Linked DNA regions of Homo sapiens: region 2 is linked to region 1. The links come from fine-mapping of genetic effects on gene expression. Tissue or cell type: amygdala. Region 1 holds a variant in brackets; the other region holds the start of a gene. All regions are shown on one strand. Distances are from middle to middle.

The links. PIP is the estimated chance that this variant, and not a neighbour inherited with it, causes the effect.
Region 2: LINC01963 starts here. The variant in region 1 is fine-mapped to the expression of LINC01963 in amygdala (GTEx, PIP above 0.99).

The regions. Positions count from the first base shown.
Region 1 is chr2:215,779,162-215,787,523 of GRCh38, reverse strand. The region is part of intron 1 of LINC00607 (long intergenic non-protein coding RNA 607); the gene reads left to right. Among named protein-coding and RNA genes, the nearest start is that of LINC00607, 60 kb to the left of the region's middle. The variant G/A (reference allele first, on the strand shown) is at 3,947.
Region 2 is chr2:216,214,825-216,218,824 of GRCh38, reverse strand. It overlaps LINC01963 (long intergenic non-protein coding RNA 1963), which reads right to left and starts at 1,936. Exons shown (of 1, transcript NR_037701.1): 1 at 1-1,936.

The sequences.
Region 1 (8,362 bases):
GCAGGTAGCACAACCATCTGAAAAAGAAAATGAAAAAGCCACCTAGAATGACATCTTAAATATAGCAAAATTAATTTAATTCTAAATGGGATCTAAAAGAATACTGATAGATACATAATGTATGCAAATCTATGCAAATCCTGGTACCAATTATGCAGAAAAGGATTGGGTGGCATTTCTAAAGACTAGCCATGCTCTAAGCTGTCACCCGCCAGCTTGCTTCTCTCTGGAGTCAGATTAAGACCAGATGGCAAGAATTAGAAACCAAGAAAAACGCCTCCCTTGAACCCTCACCTTCAAGTCTAATTTAAGCATCTGTGAGCTTTGAAGTGGTGGGACTACTTTGGTTAGCATTCAAGAGCCCTTTTAGGAGTTGCAGCAGGACATTGATTCAGGAAACAATAATACCTGACCATGCGGACTCTGCTAGACTCTTGCATGGCCTGCTGAGGTAATGTCTATAAAATGCTTTGACCTTCTTAGAATAAGACAGCTTTATGTATTGCTAGAAAAACAGCAAAACAGAATGCCTCACAAAATAAAAGATTCCATTTCCTCTAAGGGGATAAAGTACAAATGTGCACCTGCATACACACACACACACACACACACACACACACACACACACACACATACTTACCATCACCTTACAATGGAGCTAGTGTAATTTCTTTACAGAACCTCAGTCCTGCCCCATTCAGGCTTAGCAGCAGATCACTTGCACAATGTTGACTGCAGCTCCTTCCTTCATAAGCGTGTTCCCTCTAGACTACTGAGTCAGCATCATTATCCAAATAAATATCTGCTATATTTTGTTGTTAGTAATGATAATGACCAGCTGGGGTCACTAAGGATGGGCTTAATGCATATCATCCAAATGGAAAATTTGAGAAAATTGGAAGCTTTAGAAAGAGTCCAATTGTGTGTCCCTGTTTACTTTCAAAAATAAAACTCTGCCTTATATTAAAGTCATTCTGTTTTGTTATAGTGCTCAGGGCACCAGCCTTGGGATTTACAGTCCAGTGTACTCCAAAGCATTGTTGGACCCAAGAGTGGGGTTAGAAGCCTGAACCATATACTTCTGAGGGTCTCTCAAAGCCTGCAAAGAGTAGGAGGAATGCAAGGTCCTAGCTGGTAACCTTGGGACTGATAAAGGATGCCAGAATAAAGTACCTTCTCTTGGAGATCTGGAGAGTAGGGCTTCCCCAGCAGAGCAGTGCGGGGGGTCTGCAAGCTGGAAGGGAGGAGTTCGGATGCTCTGAGCTGTGTCTCACCATGGATCTAGCACAGCCCAAAAGCTGGCCCTCACTAAGTCAATTGTGGAAACTCCCCACAGGAGGATCCTGTGGTGTGAGGTCTGAGCACACGCTGAAATGTCCATGGGGATAATGAATCGCTTTATCTAATGGGAAGCAGAAGCTTCTCTGAAAACAATTCCTGCATTTTCTATTGTGACCAGGAAGCTCAAAGCACTCCATATGTCTCAGAAGCAAATGGCACATACTGGAGTTATATTAAACTCTAGAGCAACTTCTGAAGTAAGTCTTCTCAGGCTCAGAATCTACTGTTGGGGACTGACTATGGAGAACTGTTCTCTGAATGATGAGTTAATTTCTTTCCTGAACTTCATTTACACATACAATGAGCACATATTGCAAGAGGTAATGTGCTTAGCCCCGTGAGTTAAATAGATGATTCGGCAAACTCAGGCAGGTGAGCTCAGAAAACAACTCTTGGAGCAGACTCTGTGTGTGTGTGTGTGTGTGTGTGTGTGTGTGTGTGTGTGTCTGTGTTCTAGACAGAATAGGGATGGCACCCACTGTAGGAAGAAGCAGGTACCCATTGCTTTTGAGCTTTTCCTCACTTTTACATTTGGAGGAGTTCTTGACTTTTCTTCATCCTTCTGAAATCTCAGTGCTTCTTCCAGGGTTTGTTTTCTAAGGGTATAATTTCTTGGAAGAGACAAATGTCTTTATTTCCTGAACTGCTGGGGCTTGTGACTGAATGGGAATAAGAGTATAAATCAACTATGCCAGTTGTGGGGCTGAAGACCAGGAAGTGCTTTGTAGGCATGAAGGGCTTCACCAATTTTTAGGAATAATGCATTTTTATATGAGTTTTATACGGAAAATTTGTCAATTAGTTCTAATTATGCAGCATTCTGAAATTCTCTGAGACTTAGCCAGAACTGATGGAAACTCAGTAACGAAAGACTGAAACACTATCTTATTTCTATATTTCTATGCCTCCTTCACGTCCAGATCTGTTAATGACATTCTGAGTCTATACTACTTGTCTCTGGAGGTAGTGTATCAGTTAGAAGGGCTTTCGCCTGCAAGTAACAAATGCATCTAAAAATGGCTAGAGCAAATATTGAGTTAATTTTTCTCACGTCTTCAAAAGTCTGGAGGTAGCAGTTTTCTGATTGGTTCATTAGCTCCATATTGCCAGCACTCGTGTCTCTGGGATTCTCTCGAGTTTTTCCTGATGGTTACAAGATGGCTGCTGCAGCTCCAGGCATCAGGTCCTCTATTTAAAAAAAAAAAAAAAAGTTGGTGAGTATGTTGGTTTTAATATATGGCCTCAAATTCTTTCACATACCTCTTGTCTTTAAGTGGGGTCTATGTCCTTTTCCCTCGACTCTCAGTGGGTTTGTGCCCATTTGAACCCATAGAGTATGGTAGAAGTGACACTGTGTGATTTCTGAGGCTAGATCATAAAACGACATGCAGCCTCTGGCTGGTTCTCTTGGAACACTTGCTCTCTGGACACTCCCCTTGGGATTCTTCCTTTTGGGATCCTCACTCTCAAACTCAGATGAGATATCCACAGGAAGGATAGAAAGCCTGTTAGGAGCGTGCTACAAAATGGAAGACATTTGTGGAATTTAGGAACATGAGTCAGCAACTGTGGATAATAGCTTTATATTAAAGGAGCAGCAGTACTCTGTGCCCATAAAGTGCACACAGCAAGACATCCTTGAGCTTTGTGTTTATTCTCTGACCGTACATGTTTTTTTAATCAGTTTGCAAGGCTCAGCTCCACTCCAGAGGCAGGCATTCTGCTTTCCAGAGAACAGCTGGACTTTCTCAGAGAATATGCAGACAAGTCAGGCACCCTTTTTCTTTGCCCGTAGCAATATAAGAATGCACTGGCAGACTTATTTCTTCTCACTACTAAGGATCTATTTTATAACTCCCTGCCTTCTAGAATGTCTTTCCTTGTTTTTTTTTTTTGTTTTGTTTTTTTTTCCCTGTGTTGCCAATGCCTTTCTTTTCCAATCACCTTTGAAAGACATTTTTTTTCTCCCTTGAGCATATCTCCAGTCTTTTCTCTGGCAGCTACTATTCATTATTTAACTTATTTCTGTATTTTTTTCTTCTTTTTTATTTCAACTTTGTGAAAAATATAGGGGAAAATCTTGCTCTGGTGTCCTCAGCATGTCCTGTTTTGGCTTGCTCTCAGTTTCCTAGAGACTAGCATAGTGGCTTGCACATGGTAGACACTCAAAAAATGCATTCAGTGTGAATGAATGAATGAATAAATGATGGATGGATGGATGGATGATTAAATGTTTATATGGAAAGTATGGACTCAAACTAAAATGCAGCACAGCAATTAAATCAATGACTCCATACAACAGGTCAGGAGTTTAAGTGTGATGTTGCAGCTCTTCTGTTGTGAGATCTTGTGAATTTGCGCATTTCTTTTTTTTTTTTCTTTTGAGACAGAATCTTGCTCTGTCCCCAGGCTGGAGTACAGTGGCGTGATCTCGGCTCACTGCAACCTCTGCCTCCTCGGTTCAAGCGATTCCACTGCCTCAGCCTCCTGAGTAGCTGGGACTACAGGCGTACACCACCACGCCTGGCTAATTTTTTGTATTTTAGTAGAGACAGGGTTTCACCATGTTGGCCAGGATGGTCTTGATCTCCTGATCTCGTGATCC[G/A]CCCGCCTCGGCCTCCCAAAGTGCTGGGATTACAGGTGTGAGCTACCGCACCCAGCCGAATTTGCACATTTCTTCATTTACTTCACATTTATTGAGTGTCCATTTTGCTCTAGTTCCTGTGCAGTCTAATGGGGAGACAGGCTTACATAATGCAGCGTAATAAACACTGTGGCAGAGCAGCCAAATAGGTTATGGGAGCACAAAGTTGTATGCAGGCTTTGGGTAGATGGAGTTTTGCTCTCATCTTGCCTAGATCAGTTTAATATCAGGGTCTCCCAGAGGTAGCATGGCCAAGGGTTACATTTTTAATATGAATACTCATTTCTTTCTGTTCTTTTCTCCCAACACCCCTGACCCTGTCTTGCAAATGAAAGCTTTTCCTTTCCCATCCTGGGAGGGGAGGTAGAGCATTGTGCTTCTGAACATTGAGCCCTCCCTATGTCTTAGGTTGTGGAGACGCAGGGTTGCCCATGGTTTGAATCTAGACTAGTGGGATTCTAAACTCTTCCGGGTGAAACATCCTATCAAAGTTCAGTTAAAGAGCATATGGGAAGGGATCCTGGGAAAAGTAGGAAAGGCTCTGGATCAGAGGCACCTGTTGCCTAAAACCTGATTCTAGAGAGTTGTTTAAACAATAGGTCTGATGCCAGCTTGGTGCTCCAGTCCTGGAGGAAGATCTGCTGTGATGGGCACTGTTTGAGCACACAAGAGATATACTAAACCTGAGGCCTCCCCAGCAGACCTCCTGATCTTCGTGTATGTGAGAACTTTGCATGCCTGCACCACAGCTCTCTCTCATTGGCCACCCAGTTAATGGCTGAGAGGTTACGATACCAACACTGGCTCAAGCCCCATCATTTGGGCCCCTCAGAAGAAACTTCCCTGCAATGTACAGAATGTTCTGTAACCTACGATGACCCCTGGAGACTCCTGGGGAGGAGCTTCTATACAGATATTTTGGAGCCAAAGGGAATAATCCAAGTGACCTCTAACTAGGACAGTGGGAAGAGGGCACACCCATTACAATGAAAGCATATTCTGAATTCCCACAGCTTGCATTTGAATCTTGCCTTCACCACTTCCTAGCTGTGTAACCTTAATCCTGGGCAAGTTGTTTAACCTCTGTGAACTTCAATTCCCTCATCTGTAAAGTGAGGTCCTAGTATCTATTACACTTAGTGGTTGGGAGGATTCAATAAGCTTTTACATGGGAAACAGTTGTCACAGTGCCTGGCATATAGTATGTGTTGCTATTGTATTTTTGTTGTTTTTGTTTTTATTATGATGAGCAAGAAAGACTCGAGGGACATTTTAGAAATATCTAAAACTTTCCTGAATCTGAAAAAAAGATTTGGCCTCTACTCATCTGCCCATCCCACCGTTTATTTGGGGAACTTATTCTTCTCTAGGTTCCACTTTAGGATTGATTGGGGATCAAAAAATGGTGGAAAAGGGAGAATTTCTACAAAAATACAAATTTGAATTTATGTAAAAATGTATATAATAAATAAAATTCTGTTTATTTCATTCTTTTCTTCTGTGAGGAATAGGTATCTCTACCTATTGGGACTATGAATTCTGGAGTATAGTTCTAATGGAAACAAAAGGTCATTGTCTTCCCCTGTTTTTCTATGCCCTATTTGGGCCCAGCTTCTACAACTAACTGTATTATTGTCCCTCCTTGGCCATGCTGTTTATCTCTGTCTCACATCCAGCTCCCAATACTGGCCAGAAGAAATGGCGGACTAGTTTGAGGGCCAGGGATTCAGGCATCATCAGAATAAGATTAAGACCTTCCTCCTACTTAGAGACTTTCAAAGCCATAGTAACAGGAAGGAAATTTTTTTAAATGTTCATTTAGGTTCTTACTCAGAAGTGGTTATTTCTTAATTTTTTGACTCAATTTCTCATATCATTCTTTTCAACCTTCTTGTTGTTATGCAAGATTCAATAGACATTACTGATGGTTTACTGTGGGCCAAATGCTGTGCTTTCAAGTACAATTACCTCTCTTTTTCCTCTTCACTTCCCTAGGCTGTAATTCTCTCATTTTTATTACTTGGGAAAGTGCCCCAGATTGCCAGTTCTTCAATTAACAGAGCAAAAGAAGACGTCATATAGAATGTCTCTGACAGAATGAAGAAATTACTAAGAAGTGATTTTGTATGTTTTATTTTGCCCTAGAAAATTTTCTTGTTCAGATTCCAAAAGTCACTTCCTTTAATCTAACGTGCCTTGAGCTTCAATTCTGAAAGCAATAGATTGCTCTAAAATGATAGACAATGACTGAAAAATCATACAGAATTTCAGTATTCCCAAACTGATTGGCAATATGTGTTCAACAAAGTAACAACAAACATCTTATTTCTACAACAGTGACAGTGTACTTGGCATGCCAGGAACATTTCGACTTCATTTTCAGCTCTAATTGATCATGTACAAGGACTTGGATATCTGAAGAGCTGCAATAACTTCAACATCAAATCATCCTGGTAGATTACCAAAATGCATTGTTCTTCCAAAAATAGTTGGATAGCTTTCTTTATAAGTGAACTGGAAAACCTAGTACTAAGGCCAGAAAAGAAAAGACTTGAACAAAAGTAAACTTTATATTGAGCACAAAACCACTTTAGAACCACCAACTACTTCATTTGGATAAAATGAAAACTTTAAATGCAAAGAGAGACAAAAACTAGACATGTTTGGATAGCATTAAGCTGGATGGAAATAAATTTTGATTTGTGACTTAGGAGCCCTTTCAAGTCTGTTATGGTTTTAGTCTTTAAAAACAGCTGGGAAAACAGCATTTTCTAATTGAAGAGGGAAAATAATTGTATATCTTCAAGAAGGAATTCTGACCTAGAAATTTGCTTGTATATAAAGAAGCAAATAATTTCACTAAGAATGAAATAAAGGGCAAAGGACTTAGGATCTTCAAGAACCTGAATTTTAGTAGAGTAAGATCTCACAGTACTTGAAATATGGAAAGACTGAGGAAAAAGACTAAACAGCGAGGATCCACCAAGGGCAGGAATTAGGAGGTGCTGATTAGTAACGCGGATTTCCCTGAAGATGACGTCAGCTTACATACTGCTGAGAAAATTGATTCCAAAACTTTATCTTTCTTACCTGTTTTCCCAAGTCAACTTTTTGCTGTCATTGCTATTAAAGGGGGACTTTCTCCTGCCCCCTGCCGTGATGGCATCTTTCTCTTTCTACCTGGAGTTTTCCCCTGCCCAAGCCCTGAATTGCCTTCCTCCATTTCTTCCAGAGCCATTGAGTGTCATCCTATTTCACCCTCCAAATGGACATGTCCACATCTTTTACTGTGCACAAAAGACAGAAGACCCTCCTGCTATCGTAAAACACTCCCTCAACGCTTTCCTTTTCTGTAATCTAATGTGGTAGGGCTTCTGGGCCACTTCAGTGAGTCGCTGGCATTGTTTCCTACATAGCCCAGGGGGCTTTCTTTGTTTTACTTCTCTCCTTTCCTGCTCCAACCCTCTCTTTGCAGTATATGCTCTCCAAAGCTAGCTTTTGACACCTTGAAGACACCAAGAGGGTGCTTGCTGCTCTGTTAAGTCCCTGATTTAGCTGAAGGTTGCTGGGATTGGCCTGTGCTGCTCTTGGTAAGACAACTTCTGTGCCATAGAGGTGGCTCTCCATCCCCAGTGGACCCTGGTGGACCTCCTTACAGAGAGTGAGTCTCAGGTTCTAATGGGCACCTCTGCCCAAGGCATGTGAAGTAGAGAACACAAATGGTGATCTCGATTATTTTGTTCAGGTCCCAAGTGCTTGCTGTGAAGTAAAGAAAGGTTGCAGGTTTTTGTGGTGGTGGTCGGTGGTCAAATTGGCCTGGAATTACTAGGAAGAAATTTCTTGAAGCAAGTGGGACTTGAGTTGAGCAGGATTTGAAGCAGCAGCAGCAATGAGGAAAGCATTTCCCAGAGGAGCAACCTAAACATTTTGAGAATAAATATTGCTCATTTGAGGGTAGGTAGGAGAAAGTCTGGCTGGATTAGAAAGGGTAGGCTAGAAACAGGGATCATATTTATTTGTCCGTTGCTTTCCATTTTAACTGTTAATTAATTAAAAAATTAATGCATACACATGATAAAAAACCAAATAATATACATTGGTAAATGGTGAAAAGTTTCTCTTCTACCTTAATTTTCCGTTTTTCTTCCCCAAAGGTAATCATTGTTTCCAGTGTATCTTTCCAGAGATATTATATCTAGGCCTGTATATTTATATATCTCTACATATTTCTATATTTCTACCTGCCTATTTTTCCATCTGTCTCTCCATCCATCTCTTGATCTCTAGCCCCCTTCATTTTACACAAACAGCAGCAGACATTACATGCTGGTCTGTATGTAGGTTTTTTTTTTTCTAACTTAACCAAATATTCTGGAA
Region 2 (4,000 bases), 430 kb before region 1:
TTAGAATCATGTATTTCCCCTGCCTCCCTTTGCCAGTGGGCAGAAGGCAGTTTCTGAGCAGTGATTAAGCCTCTATCAGGACACTAATGCAAGTGGCCCATAAAAGGCATCTAACCCTGACACTGTTGGAGGATCCAGGACCCAGGGAGTTGGAAAGAGGGAAGGAAAATCTTTAAAAGAGGGAGCCAGGTGAAGCGACACACTGCAATGTGACTGACCTGCTGAGATTCCAAGACCTGAAACACAAACATACATGTGCACGCACACCTCCTCCCATCTAGAACCCAACTGTTTTTGACTTCTGTTCTCTTAGCGGGCTTCCCATTCCTCCTATGCCCCCAACATTATCTGAGAGGCAGCTGTCTGTTTTGTAGGAGAAAAGAGATAGTCTGTTTGAGTGATGCACACTGGATCACAGAGCAAGTTATGGACAAAGATGGAACTGTCTCTGAGTGTCATTACTTAACTTGCTAATCCACATAGGGCTGGGGGTATCCACTCATAAAAAGCAGGGCAGGACATTTTAAAGCCAGACAGGGGCTGTGTAGAGAAGGAAGAAAAATAGAATTGCAGGGACTGATAATGGAAGTATTTACTGTACACTTACTATACACCAAACATTTTATGTGGTTCATGCTCATTTAATCCTGACAGCCCTGAAAGTTAGGTTAACATAAACCCTATTTGACAGGTGCAGAAACTGAGACTGAGAATAGTCAAGCAACTTGGCTGAGGTCACAAAGCCAGGATATAGTGGCAGGTTTTGAAAGAGGCAGTTTGATTCCAGGCTCGGCTCTGATAATATTAAGCGGGCATTAAAAAGCAGGCTTCTGGGAGATGGAAAAGGAGTGGTGGAATCATCAAATGGCATGGATGTTGTACATAACTGAAGCCCTGGATTACAGAATTAAAATTCCATGTCTGTACTCCTCCCTCCCGCTCCAGCTCCACAGTTGGCGTGGGCCAGCCCAAGGCTACTGGTGGTGGGAGGAATAGCTTCATGTCCTCAAAGCACTCACCTAAATTCTGGTGTAGGGAGAGCTTAAAGTCTGTGGAAGAGACCCAGCATGCCTTTCCAAGTAGGTCCTGGGTTAGAAAGATCTGGGAGGCCTGTGTGTTAAAAGAGATGGCAGGAAATGATTCAGCTCTATATCTGTAAAATCTCTGACAATGACAGGATGTGAGGAATGACAGGAGGATCAGGAGGGCTGGGCGGGGGTGACTGAAATGTACTGACCCTGGCTGCAAACTAAAAATAAAATCCTAAGTCCCCTCCACCAACTGAATAGAAACGCTCTTGGCAAAGAGGACCCCAGAAAAACCTTAGAAACTGAGTTCCCAGCCATGACAGGACAAGAGGTCAGACACACCTCATTATACTCCCCTCCCTTTTATGGTTTAGACACAACCAACCAGCATTAATGTCAAAATAGAGGTCATAAGACTGACCAAACACACTCTTTGTGGCAACAAGATACCAAATTACAAACAGGACCTAAGGCCATGCCAAACAAGGGTTAAGTCATGCAGCCCTACACTTAAAAGAATAAACTATGTTCTAACTGCCACAAGTTTTCCTTTTCTCTAGCAGCTAAATAAGCACTGGCCTCTAAATAAACAATACTAAAACACTTGCAGCTCCACCAGATGCTGACTAACTGAACTCCACCAGCCATAACTACAGCTTTGATTGGACAAGAGTGATTTCGGTAATTTTCTCCTGGTAAGGAGCCCACCGACCATGACTGGTTCTAGCGGGTTTACAGAGATTGCATACTTGAGTGCCTTCATGTCCTGAATAGACCTTTTGATGTATAGGGCCTGATTGCAATATTTAAATATTAAGTCTCCACCCCAAGGTGAACATGTGTCATATGTAAGATGCATGTTTAATATGCATGCATCAGGACCACTTTCATTAATATTCATAGCTCCTCCTGTAACCTGTTGAATATGTGTTAAGCCAACCCATTCAGCATAAAAGCATAAAACTCCTACCCCAACCCCTCCTCCTTGGAGGTGCCTGTCTCTGGGCTTCTGCTGGAGGAGGCTGTGCTTCCTGGCCTGCAGGATGGCCACCTGGCAGGCTGTCACCCTTAAGAAATAGTGTCTCCATTTTTCTAAATTTGTATCTTATGATTTTTTTTTTAAAGTTAACGTATCTGGCAAAGATGGGATTCTGAAGCAGCCCCTGAATTCCTTTTCCTGTGTCACCCAGGACACCAGGTACAGCCAAGGTCCCTTTGAAAAAGTCCAGTTGTTCCTGACTATGCTGGGAAAGGATCTGGGTAAGTGCTATCAAAATCCAAGATCTCCCACTTTTAGGTTGCAGACTTGATTTCTTCTTTTAGGCCTCCTCCATCTGTGGAACTCCGGAGGAGACCCTCCTGCTGGCCTTGGGTTTGGGAGGGCATTCCTAGTTCTTCTCAGTCCTTTCTGTTCTCCTCCCTGGACCCCGGAGGGAACATCTCTCCTAGCCTTGGGTTTGGAGGAGGCCTTCCTGATTCCCTCCATCCAAGGGCCCTGGAGAAAATGCATTTGTGGGCTCCGGGCTTATGGAGAGGCATTCAGGTTGGATTCAACTGGTTCATAAGGTTTGTGGGGATGCTCACACTAAGGGCACTGGAAGAGATATCTTCATAAAGTCAGTGCAATAGGTAACTTACCCACTAGGGGCAGGAACTCCTGTAGAAGTTCAAAGGCATGCCAGGTTTTCCAGCACTTCAGCTAGCTGCATATTGTGGCCTGTTCTTGTGCACATTTTAAAACTGAACGGGCAAATTACAGCAAGGAAAATTCAGAGCTCAAATGCCCAACCTGCAACTATACAATTAAAATGTAGAGTTTTCTAAAGCTATCTCTTTTTTGTTTTCGGCCTGCTTTGAATTTGCTGTTATTAAGCTACTGCTGTTAAGATAAAACTCATTGTTTATGATACTACTAATTCAAGGCTACTTGGAGCTTTCTTTACAGTTCAGCCAATTGTAGCTAAAATGTAAACACTGAAAACTCATTTGAAACTTCAGGAAAAAAAAAAGGGGTAAAAGGTTTTTAAAAATAAAACTGCCATGAAAACTACTTTTCCCAAGACTTTGGTCCATAGCCTTCATTGGATTACCTACTGGGACAAATAAAGTTTAGCCATGTGAACAGGTCCCAATTTTGTCAGAAATAATTTGGATCCAGCTGTCTTTTGTTAAGTGGTGAGTCTGTATTACCATCTCATGGCTAAGGTTCCAGAGTAAAAGCTGTAAGATCTTTGTGTGTATGTGTTTAAATGTTTGTATATGAACATGTATTATGTTGTGTTGTATCTAGCATGGTACCAAACTGGTTTATAAGTAAATTATACTCATAAATTAAGTAAGTCCAAATACTTTTCAGATTCATGTGAACTTAGTAATCTGGTAAATAAAATGGTTTTAAAATTATTGGTAAAATAAAACTAGAAATGTCTTCAGAATTGTCAGCATACATTTTTTTTTTAGTCTGGGTTTACTGATTATTTTATATTTGCCTCCGCTAGGTGTTTTAAGGTATCAGGATTTGGCACAAAAGATTATAAGACTATAAACCCAGTCAAAAAGAGAATGATCTTTGTGTGAATTTTTTGACAAATAAGACTAATTTAATATTGTTGGTTCAATGAAAACAGCTAAGTTGTTAGCTGTTTTGTTAGCTTCTGAGTTGTTGGCAAAAATATCCACATGTTTAAGGTTCTGACTTAAATGAACATCTGATATTCACAGGCTACAAAAATGGTTAACAGGTCATACAGGTTACTAAACAGCTGATGACTCGTCACATAGAACTTACAGGTAAGTCACTGTTGTAACCTTGCTTTTTGGCTCTTCTGTTGCTCAAAAGGTTTTTAAGGGTTAATGAGTGCCTGTTCACCTCCATCCTCATCTGGCCTAGAATGTTTAATTGGCTCCAAGTCCCTTGGCCATAAGGATCCCACCAAAGAACAGAATGAACCTGCAGCAGGTAGCCACACCAC